Linked DNA regions of Homo sapiens: region 1 is linked to region 2. Evidence: fine-mapped expression QTL. A gene starts in region 2. The other region holds a variant in brackets. All regions are shown on one strand. Distances are from middle to middle. Region 1 overlaps PLEC (plectin). Region 2 holds the start of PARP10 (poly(ADP-ribose) polymerase family member 10).

Region 1 (5,354 bases), 56 kb before region 2:
CCCTGAGCACCTCCTCGGCCCCCTGCGTGCCGCGGATCACCAGGCTGATGGTCTTGAGCCTGGCGGGAAAGCGGGGCTCAGGGCCATGACATGGGGCTCGAGCAATAGCCCAAGGGAATGGAACCCAAGCCACAGCGACCCAGGGTGCTGCCTGCCAAGCCCAGACCCAACCCTGGGGGTCAGCTGACCCTGTGGTCAGAGGCTTGCTTCAGGAGAAGAACAGCCTTGGGGAGAAGGAGGTTGGGAGCCTCTGTAACACAAGGACACTCAGGACCCAGCCTGGAGAGGGGGTGCGCCAGCCAGGAACGGCAGACCCCAAGGCCCCGAGACAGGACGAGCCCACTGGCTGGATGACAGCGGCATCCTGGTGCCCACAGGGCCTGGAAGCGTAGTTCTCAGCCCTTGCAGCCCAAGACTGGGCGAAGGGGACACCGGGGTGGAAATGGCACCCTGTGGTAGCCAGCGGCGGCCCTATCACTGTGCTGGTTCTGTGAGGAGTAGACAGCGGGTGGACCTGTGGTTTGCAACACAGGAAGAGGCGGCGGCCCTATCACTGTGCTGGTTCTGTGAGGAGTAGACAGCGGGTGGACCTGTGGTTTGCAACACAGGAAGAGGTGGCGGCCCTATCACTGTGCTGGTTCTGTGAGGAGTAGACAGCGGGTGGACCTGTGGTTTGCAACACAGGAAGAGGCGGCGGCCCTATCACTGTGCTGGTTCTGTGAGGAGTAGACAGCGGGTGGACCTGTGGTTTGCAACACAGGAAGAGACTATGACATAACACATTGGAAATAAATGCCAGAGGCCCTTAAGTCCAGGCCAGGAACAGGACAGACGAGAGGCAGGGTGCAGGATTCCTTACTGTGCCACTGAAAGTGGATCCACAGCTTCCCCACCTCACTCAGCAGCCGCTGCCCAGCTCCACTGTCTCTTCCCCACACCCGAATCTCATCACCAGGAAGTCCCCCGGCCGCCACTGTCGAAGCGTATCCAGCCCTGAACTCTTCTCACCACCTCTGCGGCCACCACCCCAGCTGGGCCTCCCGCCTCCTGGCCAGATCTCTGAACAGCCCCCAACTCGTTCCCTCCTGCACCCTCCTGCAAGGTCACAGCCCTCACCCCAGCACCCCCCAGCCGACCCCAGCCCCTCGCCTGTGGCCAGGTGCACTCACTTCTCCAGGTAGATGGCAGACAGGCTGCGGACCTGCTCCAGCTTGCCCAGCGTCAGCTCCAGCTCCGAGCGCAGCGTGGGGGCCGCAGGCGATGGCTCTGGTAGGGCCAAGACCTTCTCGGCCTCGGCAGAGAGCCGGGCGACCCCCTTGCCCAGCCCCTCCACCTCTGCCTGTGCCTTCTGCAAAGACAGGGAGTGGGAACGCACTCATCACCGAGCGCAGCACACAGCGCCCCTTGAAGGCCAAAGGAGGGAGGGTGGGAGGAGGGATGGGGAGAGGGATGGGACTGGATGGGGGGGGACGGCCCCTGCCTGCTGCTCGGCGATGCGCTGGGCACACTCCCGTGCCGGCTCTTTGTCCAGCGGCAGCCGCAGGCGGTGCACGGTGCGCGTCTCACAGGCCTCCAGCTGCAGCCGGATGTCTTTGAGCTCGGAGATGCAGCGCTGGCAGCGAGACTCTTCCTGTGCACCTGGGGAACACATGTGGGTCACTCCACCGCCCACCTCGCACCAGCCCAACCGCCCCAGCCCTGCCGTGCCCTACCCTGTTCCAGGCTCTGCAGCAGCTGCTGGTAGTGGTGGCTGCAGGAGCCGTACTCGCGCTCAGCCATCAGCCGGTCCTCGGGTCCGAAGCCGCCCGCGTCCTGGCTGTCCCGCAGGAAGGCCTGGTAGTGCAGCTCCAGGCTGTGCAGGGCTTGGCGCTGCTCCTCTGGCTTCAGGGTGCGGAACTGGGGGAAGCACGTGGGGCTGAGTGCCGGGCGAGGCGGCCGTGCCCTGCACAACGCCTCTCCCCTCCTCCCACCCAGAGAGCCCCCGGCTCGGGGGCAGGCGTACCGTGGCCAGGGACCAGGAGCGGATGAGCTGCACGTCGCGGCGAAGGCTCTGCCAGGCCAGAAGGCTCTTCATGTCCACGTG[C/T]AACTGGTGCCACAGCGTGACCAGGGCCTGGTGCTGGGCCTCCAGCCTGGCAGGTCAGGGCTACAGTCAGCGTCACCAGCGCCCCACCCGCCTTCCAGCCCCCACCTGCTGAGCCCCCGCCACCCACCTGGTGACGGCCTCCTGGGCCTCCTGGTTGGGCGGGGGCACCAGGAAGCACACGGAGGGCACGGCGGCCTCGCTGCCGGAGCTGCTGAGCACCTTCCAGTGGGACGGCTGTGCAGGGCCCACCAGCTGGCACTCGTCACCCTTGTGCACAGTCACCTGGGACGGGCAGAGTCGGTGAGGACATGGCCACACCCTGCCCTGCCTGGCCACGCCCCCCAGTGGACCCCCGGCCTGCGCTCACCTCCACCTGCTTATAGTCGCACACGGCCAGCAGGGGCAGGCGGCCCCGCATGGGGTGGGCTGGGTGGCGGGGCTTCAGCTGCACGACGGCCTTGGCCCGCTTGGCCAGGCCTGAGAGGTGGCCCTTGTACTCGTTCAGCTGTTCCTTCTCGTCCTGTGGGGGAGGGGCAGCATCCAGACGAGGGCCATGGAGACCCACAGGCCTGCCCCAGGCACCCCCAGACCCCGGGACCAGGCCTGTGGGGCCCTCCTGATGCTCCCGGGGTGGCAGCACTTGGAAGCAGGAGGTATAGCTGGGACAGGCCCCGGGGGTTGGCCCCAAGCAGACCCATGCACCCTCGCTCCTTCCCAACCCAGACAGGGCACCCTCCTCTCACCCCAGCTCACCCACCATGTCCTCCCAGCTACGCTCTGGTCCCTACAATGCCCTCGCCCCTTGCCCCTCCCCTGCGGGCTGCAGAAGGTACTGCCTCCTCCCATCCCACCCCTCTGCGGGGGCCAGGCCGCAGGACGGCACACACCTGGGAGCTGCCGGCTCTCCCCCCGGCCCAGCCCTGCCGACCTCAGAGGCCATTTCAGTCTCCAGTCCCTCTTCCCTGTCACTCCCCACTGTGCACCCGCCCTCCTGGGTGATCCCACCCCTGCTCCCAGAGCACAAAGCCCAGTTCCACTCTGCCCGCTCCAGATCTCAGGCCAAACAGCTGGTGCCCCTTCTATAGTACAAGGGCTGGCAGTGCTCCTTCTATAGCACAAGGGCTGGCGGTGCCCCTTCTACAGCACAAGGGCTGGCGGCAGCTGCTGACTTCAGGCTTCCACTCACTCTGTGGCTATGGAGATGGGGGCGGCCCGGCTTGGACCGGCTGCCTCTCGGCTCCCCACATCCTGCCTCATTCCCCCCTTGGCTGACCTCTACACCTCCCATGGTGCCTCCCAACTCCTGCTGGCCCCTCCAGTTGCCCCCTAGTCTCCAGAGTACCCATGCAGCCCAGAACATCCTGCCTCATTCCCGCTTCGGCTGACCTCTACACCTCCCATGGTGCCTCCCAACTCCTGCTGGCCCCTCCAGTTGCCCCCTAGTCTCCAGAGTACCCGTGCAGCCCAGACTCCAGGCCAGCCCCTCCTGACACGCCCCTGCACACCCCCTCCCTCACCTGGGCATCCTGCAGCAGGTCCTCCAGCCGGGTGACGGTGGCGGAGCGATCACAACTGTATTTCCTACGCAGTGCCTCCTGCAGCTTCTGCAACTGCCCCTCGGCCTCCCGCACATCTGAGAAGAACTGGGGCAGCGGGAGGGGGTCACGCCAGGCTACCTGGGACCAGAGCCCCAGCCCACAGTTGTCCCAGGGCAGGCCCAAGACGGGGGCACTGAGGAAGGAGTGGCAAAGCCCCCAGGAGGCCTGGGGAGCACCCCTGTCCAAGGCCCCGGTCAGGCTGCAGGCAGCAGCTGGCAACGTCTGCAGACAGGAGGGCTCCTGATTGGAGCTGCCGAGGGGGTCCAGGGGCTCCTGCAAGGCTGCCGCTGAGCCACAGTGCGGAGGGGGCTCCGGTTCTCACCTGAAAGTAGGCAGCGTTCTCCTTCAGGTGTGCCTCGATACAGCAGCACAGCTGTAGCATCCAGCTCCACTGCGTCTGCAGGGCCGCCTGGAAGGACTGCGGGACAGCAGGTCCCGGTCAGGCCCCGCCCCGCCCCGCCTGGGGACCCGGCACGGCCCCCCCCGCAGCCCCGCCCCTACCCAGGGAGCCCCACCTCCACCGTGGGCCGGGCCGGGTGGTCCTCCCGCAGCAGCCGGTCCCCAGCATTTTGGAGCTCCTTGATCTTCTTCTCCTTCAGCTCCAGCTCCCGCATCAGCGCCTGGCACCAGAGCAAAGGGTCTCAGGGACGGCCGGCCACACCCGGCTCTGCCACGCTCCCAGCAAACTCGACCCAGGGCCCCCACTGGTCTCTGACCATAGGGGACGGCCAGGGCACAGCTGGGGAGGGGGCTGTGGGGTTCAGGGCAGCTGGGCCACCGCTCACCGAGTAGCTCTCCTTCTTGGCGGTCATGTTGGTGTTGCGGTCGCTCCAGTCGAAGCCCACCTCCTCCTCCTCCTTCTCATTCAGCCACATTAGCTCCTTAGTGGCGGCTGCCACAAAGCTGTGCAAGCTCTCCAGGGACCTGAGGCGGGCCTTGGAGGAGTTCTGTGGGCAGGAGGGTGCGTGTCAGCAGGCCGCGGGCTACCCACCTCCCCCGGCTGGCCCTGCCCCCACTCACCAGCAGCTTGGCGTACTGCAGGTCCAGCCGACCCAGGCAGTCACGGTAGGCACCCCGGGTGGCGGGGGAGAGCTGGCCCTGCAACAGATGAGACGGTGAGGTCTGCAGTGGCTGGGCCCGGCCCACCCCCGCACTGCCCATCGCTCAGCGCCACCCACCTCGTCACTCCGTGCCCGCTCGATCTTGGCCCGGAATTCTTCGATGGACTGGTGCAGGCCTCGGTGGCTGCCCAGCTGCGCCTCCACGCTGGGCAGGTCCACACCCCACTCAGCGCCATCCACACGGTGCTGGTTCTCCTCCACCCAGGCCAGCAGGTCCTGCAGGTAGCGCAGAGTGGAGTCCTCCAGCTCGGGGCGCCTCTGCACACTCTGCAGAGTCACCTGGGCCACCTGGGTTGCAGGGGCCGCCACGCCTGCCTTCAGCCGTAGGTTGTACTCGGTGCGGATGGCTACCAGGCGCTCGTGCAGACGGTACACCCTGGGGCAGCAGAGGACTCAGGTAGGTGTTGGCGGGCCTGGGGCCGTGTGTACCTGGGCTTCAGGGAGGGCAGGGCGGGGCCCACCTGCGGTACATCTGCTCGCCCTGCGGGTGCCGTCCATCCTTGAGGGTCTGCACGTCGTTGAAGAGCAGCCGGATCATGCTATCCGCCTTGT
Region 2 (5,354 bases):
ACTCCATCTCTACCTCTTCAAGGCCTGTGTCCAACGTGGCTGTGGCCAGGCGCTCTGTCCCAAAGACACACTGGAACTGAGCCTCCAGCCCCTGGAGAAGGTGCTGCCCTTCTGGGCCCAGGAGAAACCTGGCGCTGCCCGGGTGCTCCAGGCACAACACATGGCAGCTAATGCTGCCCAGCAGGCTCCGCAGAAACTCCTCAGCCGCCTGGCAGGAAGCCTGGGCTCCACAGAGCTGCAGGGCCATTGCAGAGATGGAGTTTGCAGGTTTAGAGCACAGGAAAGGTACTTTGAGTCCCCAGTAGGAGGAGGGGGCTGAAGGTGAGGAGTCCTGAGGGGTCACTCACCCGAAAGCCAGTCATATCCGGTCCTTCAAGTGGCAAGAGAGCGACGTCTCCCAGGCCCGCAAGAAGGTCCTCATGGTAGAGCTGCAGGAAGCGCATCGCCCCTGGCTCCATCAATAGCACCATCTCCACCAGGCCCTCCTGCCCTGCCAGCTTCACACATCCTGGGCTCACAGGCCCTGCCTTCTCCAGAGACCCCATGGTGATCTCCATGGGACCCACCAGCCCCTCTTGCTCTGGTGAGTCCATGGCAATTTCCACCAGGCCCTCCTGCCCCAGCAACCCCTTAGAGGTCTCCACTGGGCCTGCAGACCCCACAGGCCCCAGGCTCATGGGCCCCTCCTGTTCCTGCAACCCCACAGGCCTCAGGCTTACCAGCCCCTCATGTTCCAGAGACCCCATGGGCATCGAGCTGACTTGCTCTGCCTGTCCCAGAGACCCCATGGGACCTGTCCTCAGAGAGGTCCCTGACTGCCCTGGTTCCTGGCCAGAGCCTGTTGTCATAATCCCTCTACCCTGCACCATGGGACCTGTCCTCAGAGAGGCCCCTGACTGCCCTGGTTCCTCGCCAGAGCCCATTGTCACAGTCCCTGCACCCTGCAGAGCCGTCACCAACCCTCCGGTCCTCAGGAGAGCATGCTTGGTAGCCCTAGGCCCCTGGGTGGACGGGTGGTCCCCTCCACTGGTGTTCTCAGCCAGCTCCTCGGGCTCCAGGATGTCGTAGTGGGGGACAAGGCTCAGCTCTGAGCCCTGCAACCGGTGCTCCTGCTGCAACACTCGTTCTGCCACTTGGAGGAAGGGAAAGGACAGAAAGCCTGTCAGATTTCTGCAGGAGAGGGACGGTCGGCTGGGTCTGCCCAGCCCCACTCACCTTGCCACTGCTGGAAGGAGGCAACAGTGCCCAGGGGCCCGGGTAGGCGTTGCAGGTCCTCCAGGGGCCCCCCACCACTGCGGCGCTCATTCTCCAGGTACAACTCCAGCAACAGCAGGTCCACAGAGGCACCATCCCCCACCACACGCACCGCTCGGGCCTGGGGAACCCGGGCCAGGGACACCAAGGTCCCCTCCAGGCCCAGATTCTGGGCCTGCTCCTCCAGGACACGGACATCTGTGGGGTATGTGCAGGTCAGCTCAGGGAATCCCCCCTAGCCAGCACCTCAACCCCAACCCTGCCTCTCACCTGCCTCAGAAAGGGGCTTGGGCAACTGGACCAGAGCCCGGTCTGGCCGGGGGCTGGCCAAGGCACAGCAAGGCTGTACTGGGAGCCCCGAGGCCCGCAGCAAGGCCTGGACATGCTGCTCCAAGCGCTGGGGCGTGGTGCCAGGGGGCAGTCCTTGGAGCAGCAGGCGTGCAGGGGCTCGTGGTGGAGCTGGCCGCAGGCTCAGCTGGGCACCATGTAGTTCGTGATCTGCCTGGGCCAAGACCCTCTCGGCGTCTGTGGGCAGGGGCGGGGCAGGATGTCAGGCATTAGAATATCAGGGCACCCAGGCTGTCCCTTCAGCCAGCCCTCTCACCTGCAGGCTCTCTGAAGGTGAGGACGCCCCCACAGCCCAGTCTCTGCCAGCTCAACACAGGTCCCCCTCCAGAGCGTCGGCGGTTTTCAAAGTAGAGAGTGAGCAGCTCGTCGGGCACGGCAGGGGGCAGTCCACGGACCTCCACTGCCACCCCTGCCTCTGCCTCCGCCATTGCAACCCTGGGACGGGGCATCAGGTGGGTAGGGAAACAGCCCATTCCACCCCTCCTGCCCCTCCCCAGGCCCCTCCAAGGTGTGTCCTCAATGCTCCCCCATTATGGGTGGCCCCACATACAGCACTTACATTCCCCGTGGCCGCTAGGCAGCCTCAGGCCATGAGCTCAGCCAGGACTCCTGTGCCTGCCCCTCAGCAAGCCTAACCCTGCTGGGAGCAGGAAAACAAAAGTGAAACTGAAAGACGGAAGGAGGGAGGGAGCAGCTGGGCCCTGGGCGCTGAGGCCTGGGTACTGGGGCTCAGATGCTTCCTCTCCTGCTGCAGCCTCAACCCCCAGCTGACCAGGAGGTATTGGCCAGGCTGGACCCCTCAGGACCCTCCAGCCAACCCAGCCCAGCCCACCGGCCCTACCTGGCCCACTCCAGCCCCTGGTTGGCAGGGTAGACAGGAGTGTCCCCTGGTGGCCCTCCACTCCCCTGGCCTCCATGGCCTGAAAATGGCCAATCACCCGCCCCACTAAACCCACCAAGGGGCCTGAGTCACTGCCCCTCACTCAGGATCTCCAAGCCTCTGTGTCCATGACACCCTCTGCACACAAAGTGCTGGGTCTCCAGGCCCGCCCCCGGCCAAGGCTGGCCTTCAACGCCCCCAGCAACCTTCTCAACCCTGCTCCTGGTCCCTCACACCTGCCAGGTGCTGAGCATGGGCGGTTCCCCACCCTTGGTCTCCAAGAATGTGCATTGCAGCACAGCCTTCCTCCCGCCTCAGGTCTTGCCTGCCCATTCCTGCAGCTTTCTGTCCTGCCTGCACCTCCCCATCTCACACCATCATTGGCATCGTCACAAGTAACCTCAGAAGGTGACAAGGTAATGGCTCCACTGCATTCCTTGCTGCCGCTAATCCTCACCACAGAAAGGGAAACGGAGGTGCAGACAGGCCCATAGCAGCACCAGGCCTCAAACCTGGGCGGTGCCTTCAGAGTCCACACTCCCACTCGCCACAGATCTCCCACATCACCCAAGCTCCGTTTGCTTCCAGCCTTTCAAAGAGCTGTGGCCACTACCACTCTCCATCTCCTACTTCCCACTCACCCCTCAGCCCACCAAAACCCAGCCCCACCCCTGCTGTTCCTCCCTCCAGGGAGCTGAGGACCCTGGCCAGCCTGCACTCCTAGCCCTGCACATGCCACACCTCTGCTGCCCCGACCCTGGTCCCAGCCTCCAGCATCTCTCGCTAGGTAGCTAGGCTAACCTCTTAACTAGTCTCTGTCTGCCACTCCCATGGTGGGTCCTCAACAGAGGTGTCAGGGTGAGCCTTGTAAAATGACACCAGCAGCTGCTACAGCTCCCAGCATCAGCAACAGTAGAAACCAAAGTCCTGGGGGCCGGGCGCAGTGGCTCATGCCTGTAATCCCAGCACTTTGGGAGACTGAGGCAGGTGGATCACGAGGTCAGGAGTTTGAGATCAGCCTGGCCAACATGGTAAAACCCTGTCTCTACTAAAAATATAAAAATTAGCCGGGCATGGTGGCAGGTGCCTATAATCTCAGCTACTCAGGAGGCTGAGTCAGGAGAATAGCTTGAACCTGGGAGGTGGAGGTTGCAGTGAGCTGAGATCGTGCCACTGCACTCCAACCAAGGTGATAGAGTGAGACTCTGTCTAAAAAAAAAACAAAAACCCAAAGTCCTTTTGAGGACCTGCCCCCTGCCCAGCTGCACCTGACCAGACCTCAGTCCCTTCTCTGGCCCCATGCCCCCTGCACACCCTGATGCTCAGAGGGCTCCAGGCTCTCAGCTCTTCCTGCAGAGCTACAGGCCACTCCTGCCTCAGTAGCCTGGGACTGGCCCTTCCCTCTGCTTGGCCCTACCTTCCCCACAAACCCCCATGGCCACCCCTCTGGCATGATCTCCCTTACTCTGCCTTTTTTTTTTTTTTTTCTGAGACGGAGTTTCGCCCTTTCACCCAGGCTGGAGTGAAGTGCCGTGATCTCGGCTCACTGCAACGTCCACCCACTGGGTTCAAGGGATTCTCCTGCCTAAGCCTCCCAAGTAGCTGGGATTACAGGCACGCACCACCATGCCCAGCTAATTTTTGTATTTTTAGCAGAGACAGGGTTTCACCCTATTGGGCAGACTGGTCTCAAACTCCTGACCTCAGATGATCCACCTGCCTCAGCCTCCCAAAGTGCTGGGATTACTGGTGCCAGCCACCATACCCAGCTATTTTATTTTTATTTACTTATTTATTTATTTTTTGAGACAGAGTCACACTCTGTTACGCAGGCTGGAGTGCGGTGGCACGATCTCAGCTCACTGTAACCTCTGCCTCCCAGGTTCAAGCCATTCTCCTGCCTCAGCCCCCCCAATAGCTGGGATTACAGGTGCACACCACCACGCCCAGCTAATTTTTTTTTGTATTTTTAGTAGAGACGGGGTTTCACCGTGTTAGCCAGGATGGTCTCCATCTCCTGACCTTGTGATCCACCCGCCTCGGCCTCCCAAAGTGCTGGGATTACAGGCGTAAGCCACCGCGCCCAGCAAGCATTTTATTTTTCTTAAAGGTCTCTCAAATTTTGTGAGCTTCTGCTTCTACAAAGGTAGAAGTTACCTTCTACAAGGGTAAATCCATCCCTGCTTTTTCCACGTTTTCTCTAATGGAACTCATCACAGGTTATCCATTACGCCGACCCTGGCTGCAGAGGGCCTGCCACAGGCACCACTCACACCACAAGCAGACTGGTACAGTTTCGGGAATTTCTGTGGACTGGTTGTCCAGCTGGGGGTAACTTGAAACCAGCCCCGGTGGAGTATTCACACCACGCGCATGTGCAAAACACGCACCCCAGGCTTCCCCTCACTAGGTCCGGCTGCTAAACACTGCGCCAGCGCACCATAGGTGCAGGACTCAGAGCGGCCTGGGAGAGGCCGGCCCTCCAAGGGCGGGAGGGCAGGTGGGGTCTGGGCCCCGGGTGGGAAGGCTGGCAGCAGGATGTACCCTGCCTGTGTCAGTCACTGCTCCCCCAAGAGGACTTGGGAGCTAAGCAGGGAGGTGGCCTGGCCTCCAGTCCTGCTGCATCCCCAAGCCTCAGCCCCTCGCAGCTTGTGAGGACGTTAGGCAGACAAGCGAGCGTTCAGGGTCTCTAGTGTGAAAACAAGACATCGTATTTGTTAGTACAAAGGGTGACTGTGGTCAAGAATAATTGTACATTTTAAAACAACTCCAAGAGTATAACTGGATTGTTTGTAACACGAAGGACAAAATGCCTGAGCTGATGGATACCCCATTTACCTTGATGTGATTATTATCCATGGCATGCCTGTAT

Evidence for each region. PIP is the estimated chance that this variant, and not a neighbour inherited with it, causes the effect.
Region 1: its variant is fine-mapped to the expression of PARP10 in whole blood (TOPMed, PIP 0.95).

Annotation. Positions count from the first base shown.
Region 1 is chr8:143,927,934-143,933,287 of GRCh38, forward strand. PLEC (plectin) reads right to left here. Exons shown (of 32, transcript NM_201384.3): 13 at 5,264-5,354; 14 at 4,860-5,178; 15 at 4,702-4,779; 16 at 4,467-4,628; 17 at 4,197-4,301; 18 at 4,004-4,099; 19 at 3,601-3,726; 20 at 2,451-2,603; 21 at 2,211-2,365; 22 at 2,003-2,129; 23 at 1,713-1,896; 24 at 1,481-1,638; 25 at 1,170-1,348; 26 at 1-59. Among named protein-coding and RNA genes, the nearest start is that of PLEC, 9.0 kb to the right of the region's middle. RefSeq lists enhancers at 287-416, 807-1,056, 4,281-5,216 and a silencer at 543-672. The variant C/T (reference allele first, on the strand shown) is at 2,084.
Region 2 is chr8:143,984,197-143,989,550 of GRCh38, forward strand. It overlaps PARP10 (poly(ADP-ribose) polymerase family member 10), which reads right to left and starts at 2,264. Exons shown (of 11, transcript NM_032789.5): 1 at 2,162-2,264; 2 at 1,859-2,037; 3 at 1,525-1,779; 4 at 1,216-1,452; 5 at 348-1,132; 6 at 14-235. The coding sequence starts at 2,163. RefSeq lists enhancers at 1,927-2,366, 2,037-2,940.